Regions from separate parts of the Homo sapiens genome. Here region 2 is linked to region 1. Evidence: fine-mapped expression QTL. A gene starts in region 1. The other region holds a variant in brackets. All regions are shown on one strand. Distances are between the middles of the regions. Region 1 holds the start of CCDC88C (coiled-coil domain containing 88C). Region 2 overlaps CCDC88C (coiled-coil domain containing 88C).

Region 1 (5,363 bases):
GAGCACGCCACTGCACTCCAGCCTGGGCAACAGAGTGAGACTCTGTTGTCTCAAAAAAAAAAAAAAAAAAAAAAAAGAGAAAAGAAAAAAAGATTTTTATTTCAGATAAAATTAATATTTCCATAATTAGGATACACACATAATTAGCAAACACACATTCTTGAGTCCATTATTTAAGGTTTATTCTATAAACGACTTCCATGAGTATTAGAGATCCTGAATGTCATCTGAATATTTGTCTACACACTTGTGGGCAGCTTCTGTAGACTTTTCTTTGTAGAAATTCCAGTTTTTCTGAATTCTTCCTTTTCCTTCAGGTTTTCCACTTTGCATTATTCATAAAAGGCTGGGTCATTATAGTGAGCTGTTAAGACATTCTTTCAATGCAGAATTTTCTTTCCAGCATTTTACTACCATAAGGATTCCAGAGTTCTTGCAACATTTGGTAAAATCTTGAACTTGTCAGAAGACCTCTCTCTGGCCTTTTCTCTCATTATTTTAGGGATCAAAACATCTTTTTCGACACGTCTGAGCTGCTGCTCCAAAAACCTGTAGTGTCTTCCCATTGTTTTTGGTATAAAAATCAAACTCCTTGAAATGGTTTACAGGACATTTCATGATTCACAACTGAAACTCCTCCACAGCGATGGCACACACTCCTCTTTGATCTCAATTCTTCTTTCTTGTGGTCTTTGCTTAAACCACTGTTCTTTAAATTTCACAGAGCAACCATCAGAGTTGTTAAATTAATCCGCGGGGTCGAGTGCCATCGCGGCGGGCGGAGAAGCAATTAAGGAACTTCTCTAATGAACTTCTGGTGCACAACAAAACCATGTAGTCTCGAAATTTTAGTTCCTCCGCAGTCCCCCATTGTGTTTTATGCTACCCCGCCTTCCACAGTCTCTAGGGACCCCTAACCGACCCCCTTGGCTCTCAGGCCATAATCTCACAACCCTCCCCAGCCCAACGGGGTCCGCCAGCGCTGGGCTGTAATACCACTCGCCACCAGCAGATGCCGCAGCCCCAACGCTGCACAGAGCCAACTTTCAAAATTACCACCGAGCCTGTCGGCAGCCATTTAGTGCCTGCTGTATACTTGCCAAGCGCCACGCAGGGCCCTTCGGGTCAACCCTGTACCAGTTGGCCCAGCTGCGAAATGCGGCGATCGTTAGGGTTAAATTAGTAAAATGGTCTACAGTGCTTTGAACAATGACCGGCTGGTGGTGTGAAATTATTACCAGGCCGAGACCAGCCTGGAGCCGGCTCCTGCCTCGTGCCGTCCCGCAAGGAGGTCCTGCCCCCGGGCTTGCCTTCCAGCCAGTTGGGGCCTTTGCCCTTTTTCCTGTCGCCTGCCACTAAGCTGCTGCTAGGAACCCCGGCTGGAATTTAGCTCGCCTCCGGCAAAGTGGTGGGGGCGGGCCCGGGTCGGGGAGGCCACATCACCTGCTTCCTGCAGGAACTTTTAGAAGGCAGGCAGCCCGGAACATGGCACGGTGGGGCACGGTAGGGCGCGAGGGGCCGCGCCCCTAAGGCCTAAACTCAACATAAAGTTTCTTCTTTGCCCTCCAGCCCAGCCCCAGGGTCGGGGCGCGTTTATCGCGCCGCGCACAAGCGTGAGGAGCGGGGGTTTGCGGGGCCTCTTGACTGTACCTGGGGCTGCACCTGCCAGGAGTGCGGAAAGGCGCAGGGCCGAGGTCCCCAAGCCCAGAGCGGGCGGCAGCTGCGGGCGACCTCGGAGGGCAGAGCAACCTCGGAGGGCAGGGCGTCCCCGCTCCCGGCACGCACCAGTGCCCGCGCACCCCAGCTCGCACGTGGCGCTCGGGCCCCGGCTGCACGCGCACGCGCGCAGGGATGCGCCACGTGCTGGGGCCCCACACGCGGGGAGGCTGCGCTCGGCGAGGGCGCGCGGTCCCACGGGCGGGGAGCCGGGCCCCGCGACCCACCCGCCTCGGGCCACCAGTCCCCTCCCAGCGCCCCGCGTAGCCTGGTCCCGCGCCCGGGCTCCCGGGCTCCCGGGCTGGCACCGCGAGGCGGCGCGCCGGTCGCCCAGGGCCGCCGAGGGGCGGGGCCGCCCGTATTGTTCCTCCCCGAGCGGCTGGCCCTCCCCTTCCCCCAGACCCGGGCGGGGCGCGGGGCCGCCGAAGCCGCGGAACGTGGGCTCGCGCGCCCCGCCTTTGTCTCCCGGGCGCGAGCCGCCGCAGCCCCGCGCCCGCTGCTCGCTGCGGAGCCGTTTTGTGCCGCGGCGCGGGGGAACGGGGACGCGGGGCGGGGGGCGCGGAGCCGGCGGGCGCAGCCTCAGCATGGACGTGACAGTCTCGGAGCTCCTGGAGCTCTTCCTGCAGAGCCCGCTGGTGACCTGGGTGAGTGCGCCTGGCTCCCCGCCCCTTTGTTGGTGCACCGGCTTCTCTCTAGCCCGGCGACGGGACGCCGCAGACCCGACACGGCCGGGGCCCCGGGTGGCTCCGGGGCGCGAGGGACGCAGCAAGTGGCTCCCGGCCGGGGTTGGGGCCGCGTCCTGGAGTCCGGAGCTTTGTAACTCTGGAGCCGGCGCCCCCGTTGTGCGTCCGGCGCGGGACCCCGCCGCGCTTTCGGCCGGGCCAGGAGCCGGGCGGGTACACCTGTTCCCGCTGGGGCTCTAGGCTGGCTGCCTCGGGGCGGACCGGGTCCCAGTGGTCACTCCTGTCCCTGGGGTTTAGCCACTCCCGAAAAGGACCCCATTCTTCCCAACCAAATATCTCATGTAGTTTTTCTGAATCCCTGAGACCAGCCGGTGGATGGCGGTGACGGGTGGGGAATGGGGGGCGCCGAATGGGAAAGCGAACAGACTGGGGTGGGCGCACTGATTTACAATGGATTTGAGACGTGAGACATTTATTGAAAAGTCCTTTTTATTTTTATTTCTTCCGCTCTGGAACGCGGGAGAAAAGTGGCGAGGAAGTTTTTCCTCCTGTCTCGTGTCTGTTGCCCCGCGCGGGGAGGGGAGACAGGCCCTAGGAGAAGGCCGGGCTTGGTGCCTGCTGAAGGGTGGTGTGGGCGTGGGTGACCCCCTTCTGCTCACACTGACCCGTCCAGTCTCTGCCTGGGAGAGCTTTGGACCGTTTGTGCGCACGGGGTGACTTCCTGTCTTTCTCTCCTCGTCCCCCTCCCCGCAGGTGAAAACTTTTGGCCCGTTTGGAAGCGGCAGCCAGGACAACCTGACTATGTACATGGATTTAGTGGACGGCATCTTTTTGAACCAAATTATGCTGCAAATGTAAGTTACCTTCTTCTCGGAGGAAGGAAAGAATGGTGCGTTAGAAAGTTTGAGAGTAGAAATGGAGTGGAAGGTTGCATGGCGGGGTGTGTGTGGGGTGGGGGGTAGTTCTCTGAAGGTGGAGACGCTGGTATCTCAGTATTAACGTGCCTGTTGGACATTCGTAGGTGTTTGAAGAACTCCAGGACAGTGGGTCTGGCAGTTGGTTTGATGAAGGAAATTTGGAATTGAATGACTGTCATTTACGTGGTGTAGATAGTGCAATTGACTTCAGACTCAAGGACTTAATTGTGGTTTGAGCAATGAAATGAAAAAGTCCCCTTTTGGAGGGCAAGGAACTGTAACGGAGAGTGTCTGGTTACAGGAAGTGTCGGGGTGGGCCCAGGCATCCGAGGGTTACTGTAAAGTTTCATTTTAGATGAGGGTGTCTGTGTTTCTGAGCTCCTTTACATTTCATCTTCCTTTTTCAGTTGCCCCAAAGCAAGTGCAATTCATTAAGTCCTACTGTATGGACTGAGTTTAAAGTCACAGTGTTAGGAGGGTCCCATGGTGCTGTTTGTTTGGAAGCATGCAGCCTGAACAGGGTCTTAGTAGAAGTTACTCTTGCCAGCGAGTACATCTGACCACATCCTTTCCTGTTGCTGAGCTCTGCACGGCCTGATTGACAGCTTGCCACAACGTAGGTGTTGGCTTCTACCTTTGCATTCTGTTTTTAACTCAAACTGCAGGGAACATTGGAACTGAGTGTCGGGATGATTCACAGGCACTTGAAGCAAAATAAAACATCCTAATGTTCTCTGTGGATCAGCCTCGTGTGCGCACCTATTCACCTACGACTGAGCAAGTTGTCATACTGGAGCATAAATCTATTAGCTAATGAGAGATCAGCTTCGTTTGTGGCTCACAAAGGCAGAGGAGCAGTTTGCTTTGGCATATCCAGAAAGTGGCTTATATAGATTGCCTTAAACAGCCTGTTTAGAAAAAAATAATTCAAGAACCTTGCTTTTTTTTTTTTTGGAGACGGAGTTTCGCTCTTGTTGCCCAGGCTGGAGTGCAATGGCGTGATCTCAGCTCACCACAACCTCCGCCTCCCGGGTTCAAGCGATTATCCTACCTCAGCCTCCCGAGTAGCTGGGATTGCAGGCATGCGCCACCACGCCCGGCTAATTTTGTATTTTTAGTAGAAATGGGGTTTCTCCATGTTAGGCTGGTCTCGAACTCCCGACCTCAGGTGATCCGCCTGCCTTGGCCTCCCAAAGTGCTGGGATTACAGGCATGAGCCACTGTGGTGCCCGGCCTCCTTTTATTTTAATAAGTCATTTGATGTCATGCTGTTTAATGGTTTTTGCTTTTTTTTTTTTAAAGTTCACAGCTGTGGGTGTAGGAAAAAAAGTCACTACCAATCTTACCAGTCTTCAGTGTCTGATTAGATTGAAAAACATAAATCTGTTGCCAGCTTTGACAGCACTTCTTAGATAACTTTGTTGAAACTGAGTTTTCCGGAAGCTGTCTCGTGGCATATTCGAGTTCTGGCCACTCTCCCCTCATTCTGTTAGACCCTGAAAATTACTGGATTCCATTGGCGCAATGACCGGTGAAACTTCAACCTGTCCTTACCCAAGCCCAAGACTGTTTAATTAAAAAAACCAGCAGTATCCCCAGCCTTTTCATTCAGCTCCTACACCCAGGCAGAGGGGGGAACAAAAGCACTGGGACTGTTTCTCTTTCTTCCCTGACCTTTGGAATTCCTGAAGCGTTTCCCACTTGCTTGTAAATCAGGAAAGCCTGTTGGACCGTTCCTTTGAGAAACGCCAGCTCATCACTTGTTCTCATTTGGCCCATGGCTAAATTCGGCCGGGGTGGTGTGGGGTGGGAGGGTTTCTCCCCTTCCCTGGGCAATTTTAGATGTTCTCTCTGTGATATGCCAAGGTAATCATTCCAGAAGTGGGAACTGGTAAATTGTAGCTCTTAAGACTTCAAGAAGTGCTTCTGGGTCCCTCAGGATGAGTTGGGCACAGAGGAATGGAGCGTGGGGAGGCTGAATGGCTGGCTTTCCAGAATGAGGAAAGAGAAGAGAGAGCGGGTGGGCATGGTTTCCTGCATGGGTCAT
Region 2 (5,363 bases), 64 kb after region 1:
GTGAAGGACGGGAATAACTCTACCCATCACCGAGGGCTCAGAGGGCCCCGGGCCTCGCTGACTGACATGCTAGACGGTGGCCTCGGCAGGCTGCACACAGAGGGCAACGTGTCAGGGCTGGGGGACGGGGAGCTGGGTGCACGGATGAGTAGGTTTGACAGGGGTCCCATGGTGCTCTGAGAGCAGAGGAGGCTGGCAGCGGACATCCACCAGCAGGAAGATGCAGACACCAGTGCTAGGGGCAGAGGGATGTATTTATGAAATAGCATTTTCAGTTTTAAATTGTAAAAATAGATGTGTGAAGCTCTTTTCGTTTCTTTTTAAACAAAGAACAAAGTTGGTGTTTTTTTAATTTGTATGGTTGCCCGGGGTGGGGCATGTGTGTGCTTTTTGACTAAATCTATCCCCGTCGTGTGTGAGGGGCTTGCTTTGTACTCTTTTTGATGGATGCTAACACTGTACTGTTATTTATAACGTTTTATAGTTTGGGGTAACTTTTCTGTTTTGGGCACATAGCATCACAAGCTCCCAGATTCCAGATCCCAACAGAGCATCTGGTCCACCCACTGTTCCCCAACACAATGATACTAAAAGACCCTGAGAGTCTACGCATTTGTCCCCTTTCTCTGACCTAAAAAAGGGAGGTGCCACAACTTACAGTTTTTCTGTATGTCTCACTTAACCCCCCACACCCATCAGACAGAAGGGTGTTCACTCTCTTCCTATCCTGGGTGGAAGTCAAGGACAGTGCAGTAACTATGAAACAGTACTTCGTATACTGAAAATTGCTTTTGAAATCTCTCCTCAGCATCTGCCCGTCCCGGCCCAAACTCCTCACTCCCTTACGCTGTGTCTGCCCTGGGACCGTCTCTGGATTTCTGCTCTGATGGTGCTGTGGTTTTGCAGCTCACTCTCAGCTGCACCCACGCCCCCGGGGAGGGGAGGGTCTGTCTGGTGCCTCACTGCTGTAGTCTCTGCTTCTCCGAGCACGGCCTGGGCTCTGGCTGGACCCTGCTTGAACCCCGCCCTCACTTTTATATGACGGCTCTTATAAGAGCCTGCCCCCATAGTGAGGCGGTGTGCAGGCTTCTGGGGCCTGAGTGCCGTAGAGCGTCCTTCGCCTTGTTTCCCCTCAGCCATCCTTATCCTTCCCTCTTACCCGTGTCTGCGCTGTCGCCTGGTGTCCCGGGTCTACCCTCAGTGCACCCCCAGAAGCCGAGCTCTCCTCTGCAGCCCTCCTCACCACCACCAGCTCCCCTGCTTCCGCCTGGCTGCTCCCCAGGGCAGTGTCCTCACCTCTGCCCCCTGCAGTCTGCTCCCAGCATGGCAGCCCGAGCAGCCCACTCCTCAGGTCAGCCGACTGTCATTTTGCAGCCCGCTCCGGGCACTAGGGCCTGTGCACCTGCCGGTCCCTCTGCCAGCGAGCTGTGTAAACACCTCCTGTGAGCCCCTGTTCAGTGTGGCCCCACCTGTCTCTCCTGCCACACGCCCTGTCTTCTTTGTTCTGCTCTGCTTTCCCTTCTCCATATCTTTTGGCACCTGTGAATAGCCTATACTGTTCACTTATTTTTTCCCCTCTGTGGCATTGCATACTTTTCCCCCGTTAGGGTGCACGCTCTCATGACAGCAGGAATCCTGGGGTTTTTTGTTGTTGTTGTCAGTGCGTTCGAATGCCTAGATCAGTGTCTGGCATGTAGTAGGTGCTCAGTAAATACAGCATCCATGCAGGGGGCCCACCTTTCTCTCTTCCTCTCTCCACTTTGCTCTCCCGTCAAGCTGGGGCCCCTGACAGGTGTTACCCACTTGCTCTCATAGATAAGAAGGCCAGTTGTCAGTGGTCAGGGTCAAGTGAGATTCATTCTCTGCCCAGTACCACGTGTCTGTCTCCCCTAGGCCTGAGATGACTCCCTGAAAACCGCCTTCACCATCTTGCCAGCTGCACAGCTATTAAATATCTTTCGCGGTTACTGGTGAGTGTTTTCTACAAGAAGCCTGTGAGAAGCAAGAGCTCACGTCTGTGCTGTGAGGGAGGATGCTGGATGGAGCTAGACCAGCTCCGGGGTCCCTCCAGCTCTGGCTTCTCAGCATCTTGCTCAGCAGCCAGGCCTGTCACTGTGCCACACGCACAAGAAAAGACTAGATTTGTCTGACGGGAAGCCAGGGTGTTAGCAAATTACTTTCTGCGATGAATCACAGGACAGTTGCACTGGAAGAAAGCATTGTTTTTTCTTCCAGGGTTTGTATCCAAGTATAGTAGTGGTTTCCAGACTTACACATGGCCGATCCCACCGAAGCCATTTAGAATGGAAGGGAACGAGCCATTTAGGTGTAGAAGCCCAGCCCAGAGAGCGGAGGAGCTCATTCAGAGGCACACAGCATGGAGGTCCCCATAGGCGCAAGAC[A/G]GATTTCACACCATAAATTGCACAGATGGTTACTTTTGTGGACAGTAAGCCACTGGTTCCAAGCAAGAGGGTTACTGTCACTGGTCTGCCCTGATGTTTCTTACATTCTAAATGCCAAGCAGGATTCCTGGAAGCCCTGGAGGGGCTGCGACTGCATATGCACACCCTACAGGGTCCTGTCTGAATGCCCCTGGAACCTTTGAGAAGAGCCTTGGGGTTTCATTAATTGCCGTTCAGCGGCCTGGCCCTCTGTCCTATGTTTTCTCTCTCTTATGATGGTTACAGAGGGTGCGCATTCCAGCAGCAGAGGAAGCACCCTGAAGAGACAAGGTTCTGTGCGCACAAAATGCTGTGACCGACCTTCCTTCTCAGCTGAGTGCAGAACTCTATCTACTGCACCGGCTGAGGAAGCCAGAAGGCCCGACTTCTGACCTCCCCAAATAAAAGACTGGAGTACCTTTTCATCCTTCCTCATCTTAGCTGGCTGCCCCTCAGCCAGAGGCTCACAAAAGGAGCTCAGCCCAAGCCCCTCCTTTAGCTCCCCTCTGCTGGTGAGATGAACAGGCCGCCTCTGCTCAGGAAGCCCCCAGTCTGGGTTGAGGCAGGAAGGGAAGACAGAGTCCTGCGACATTTATTCTAGGACAGAAGATGGTGCAAGAATGTGCTTCACAGCCAGTGCAAGGGGGCTGATGAGTTCTGCTTGGGCAGGCCAGGAAGGCTTCCTGGAGGAGGCAATATCTGGGCAAGCCACGGACAGAGAAAGCGAGGAAAGGTGTTCTAGGTGGAACGAGCTCAGGGGAGTGCAAGTTGCTGGAAGTCTCATGAGGATCAGCAAGCCTGGGGCAAGGAGGAGGCCTTCTGTGACAGCTGAGGTTTAGGATTCATGGGCCAGAGGAAACAGACCTCCTGAAACTCCTTGGAATTTAATATTTAACCCTCTCAGTATTGATTTGCTCTCCTGCCAGTGTGTCCTTGGAGTGCTTTTCAGATCCCATGGAAACCTCTCTCTCGTAGCCCACACGGCACAGCCCTGCCTTCCTTCGGGGGCCCCGGGGAACTTGTGAGGGCTGGGTGTGCCCCAGGCTTACTGACCTCCATCCTGGCAACCCAGGCACAGGCTCAGAGTCCGGCTTGTGAGGAACAGTCCTCCTGCTGCAGAGATGGTGCTTTTAAAAATCAAAAGCCCTGTCTTCCTGGCCCTGCGGCCCTCCCAGTCCTGCCCCTGGCTCCATGCCTGCTCACCGTGTGGTGTGGAGGCTGAGGGTCGGCCACTCAGGCTTCATGAGCCATTCTTGTGTTCTTTTCCCCTACCCCTGTTGTTTTTATTTTATTTCTCCTGGCCATAATTCTCTAATCCTGTGTATAAGTGTATATGTGTGTGTGTATATATATATAATTTTCATATTTGCAAAACGTTTTGGGCGTTTGAATGGGAGGGAAGAAATAAGAAAAAGCTAATCTTGCAGGCATTTTGATTGTTCTAAAATTTCCTCTTTCATCCTTGAGAGAGAAGGTTCAGAAAAGCAACCAAATGCTGTTTTAAACTACCCCGTTTCTATCCTGCTTCTTTGCTTCTGTGCTGCTTGTTGGATCCGGAAATGAGGGCTCCAGTCCACGTGCGGTGCTGGGGCACTTAAGCCAGGAGCCGAGGCTTTCCTTTCCTAGGAAGGTGCAGAGTTTGGCTGACACCAAGCCCAGCCGAGCGTCACAGTGCGGCCCACACGCCGGCCTCCAAGCACCCGCGGATCTGCCTGGAGACCAGACTTTGTTAGTAAACTTCCTAGCGATGGCCCAGGCACACAGAGAACGCCGCTGGCTGCAACAGCCACACCATGGCTTCCAGCAGCCCTACTCTCTGTGGCCACCGCCGTCTGCGGAGGAGGGAAGAGATGCTATTTGTCAAAGGTCTTTATGTTTGAGTTTTCCACGTGGTGGTTGGGAGGGACCCTTTCCCAGAGCGTCCCCTGCCTGCCCTAGCTCCTCGCCCCTTCCCAGGGCAAACTTGAGTCTCAAGCTGCAGGCTTGTGGCTGATTCTGCTTTTCTGGTCTTCAGTTGTTTGGTGCTGGGAAATGAATTCGCTCTCAGCTTCTGCAGGCGTGGCAGGCAGGTGGGGTAGGAGGTCATTTTTGGGGTGAGGGTGCTCCGAGGGGCTGATATTTCAAAGTGTTCTACATGACCTGGGGGTAGCTGTCGTCTGTTGTGCGTGGTGGTGCTGGGGTATCTGTGGGGGTGGGACTGACTTGACATGGGCAGCAGAGAGACACTAGAGTAAAGGGCCACTAGTCAGAGTGCCCCCGGGAGGCTCCTGCACCATTCCACACAGGCATGCAGCTTAGCGCCTGCCAGAGTCCACGTTTGATAAATATGTGTGCCTGGTTATGTTAATGCCGGGGGGTGGGGGCACGTGGTGACATGAGGATTCCACAGGGGCCGCTCCCCAGAATGTGAGCCCGTGCGTAGAGGTGCCTGCCTCCTTCCCCATGGGTGGGGACACATATGATGGAGCATCCCCATGTGCCCACCCACGGGGAACTCTCCACCTTGAGTATTCCTCGGCAGTGCCTAGGAAGTACCCCAACTGTTAAAATAATAATAAACAGCTCTTCTCGTTGTAAGCTGAGCCCTCAGGAGGGCCCTCAGAGCCGTGCCCATGTGAGTGAGTGTTGGGGTGTGCCCGTGTACTGAGGAGAGACAACAGGGTCGTGTTCAGTGCACTGCTGTTTTCAAATCACTGTGACAGCCTCGTGAGCATCCTTATGAAATAACTGGTTTTTAAGTACAAAACCAGGGAAAGCAGTTAGTGGTTCACACCAGCATGTAAGCCAGAAGAGAAGAGAATGTAGAATAAGTAAGCACACATACGTGCCGTAGAAGAGAGAAACTGAAACTGCTCTCTTTGCGGTTCTAACCCAGGTACTTGATGCTAACAGTTAACCTCACTCAGTCAGCAAACGCTGGTT

What was found. PIP is the estimated chance that this variant, and not a neighbour inherited with it, causes the effect. A credible set is the group of variants that fine-mapping cannot tell apart.
Region 2: its variant is the best candidate, but not a certain one, in a credible set for the expression of CCDC88C in atrial appendage (GTEx, PIP 0.72).

The regions. Positions count from the first base shown.
Region 1 is chr14:91,414,628-91,419,990 of GRCh38, reverse strand. CCDC88C (coiled-coil domain containing 88C) reads left to right here and starts at 2,171. Exons shown (of 30, transcript NM_001080414.4): 1 at 2,171-2,360; 2 at 3,153-3,253. The coding sequence starts at 2,301. CCDC88C-DT (CCDC88C divergent transcript) reads right to left here and starts at 1,745. Exons shown (of 3, transcript NR_184261.1): 1 at 1,651-1,745. It also overlaps the pseudogene LOC112268126. RefSeq lists enhancers at 756-805, 1,046-1,690, 3,296-3,585, 3,596-3,725, 4,116-4,245 and a silencer at 1,756-2,675.
Region 2 is chr14:91,351,068-91,356,430 of GRCh38, reverse strand. The region is part of intron 4 of CCDC88C (coiled-coil domain containing 88C); the gene reads left to right. Among named protein-coding and RNA genes, the nearest start is that of CCDC88C, 64 kb to the left of the region's middle. RefSeq lists enhancers at 1,023-1,533, 2,995-3,966. The variant A/G (reference allele first, on the strand shown) is at 2,403.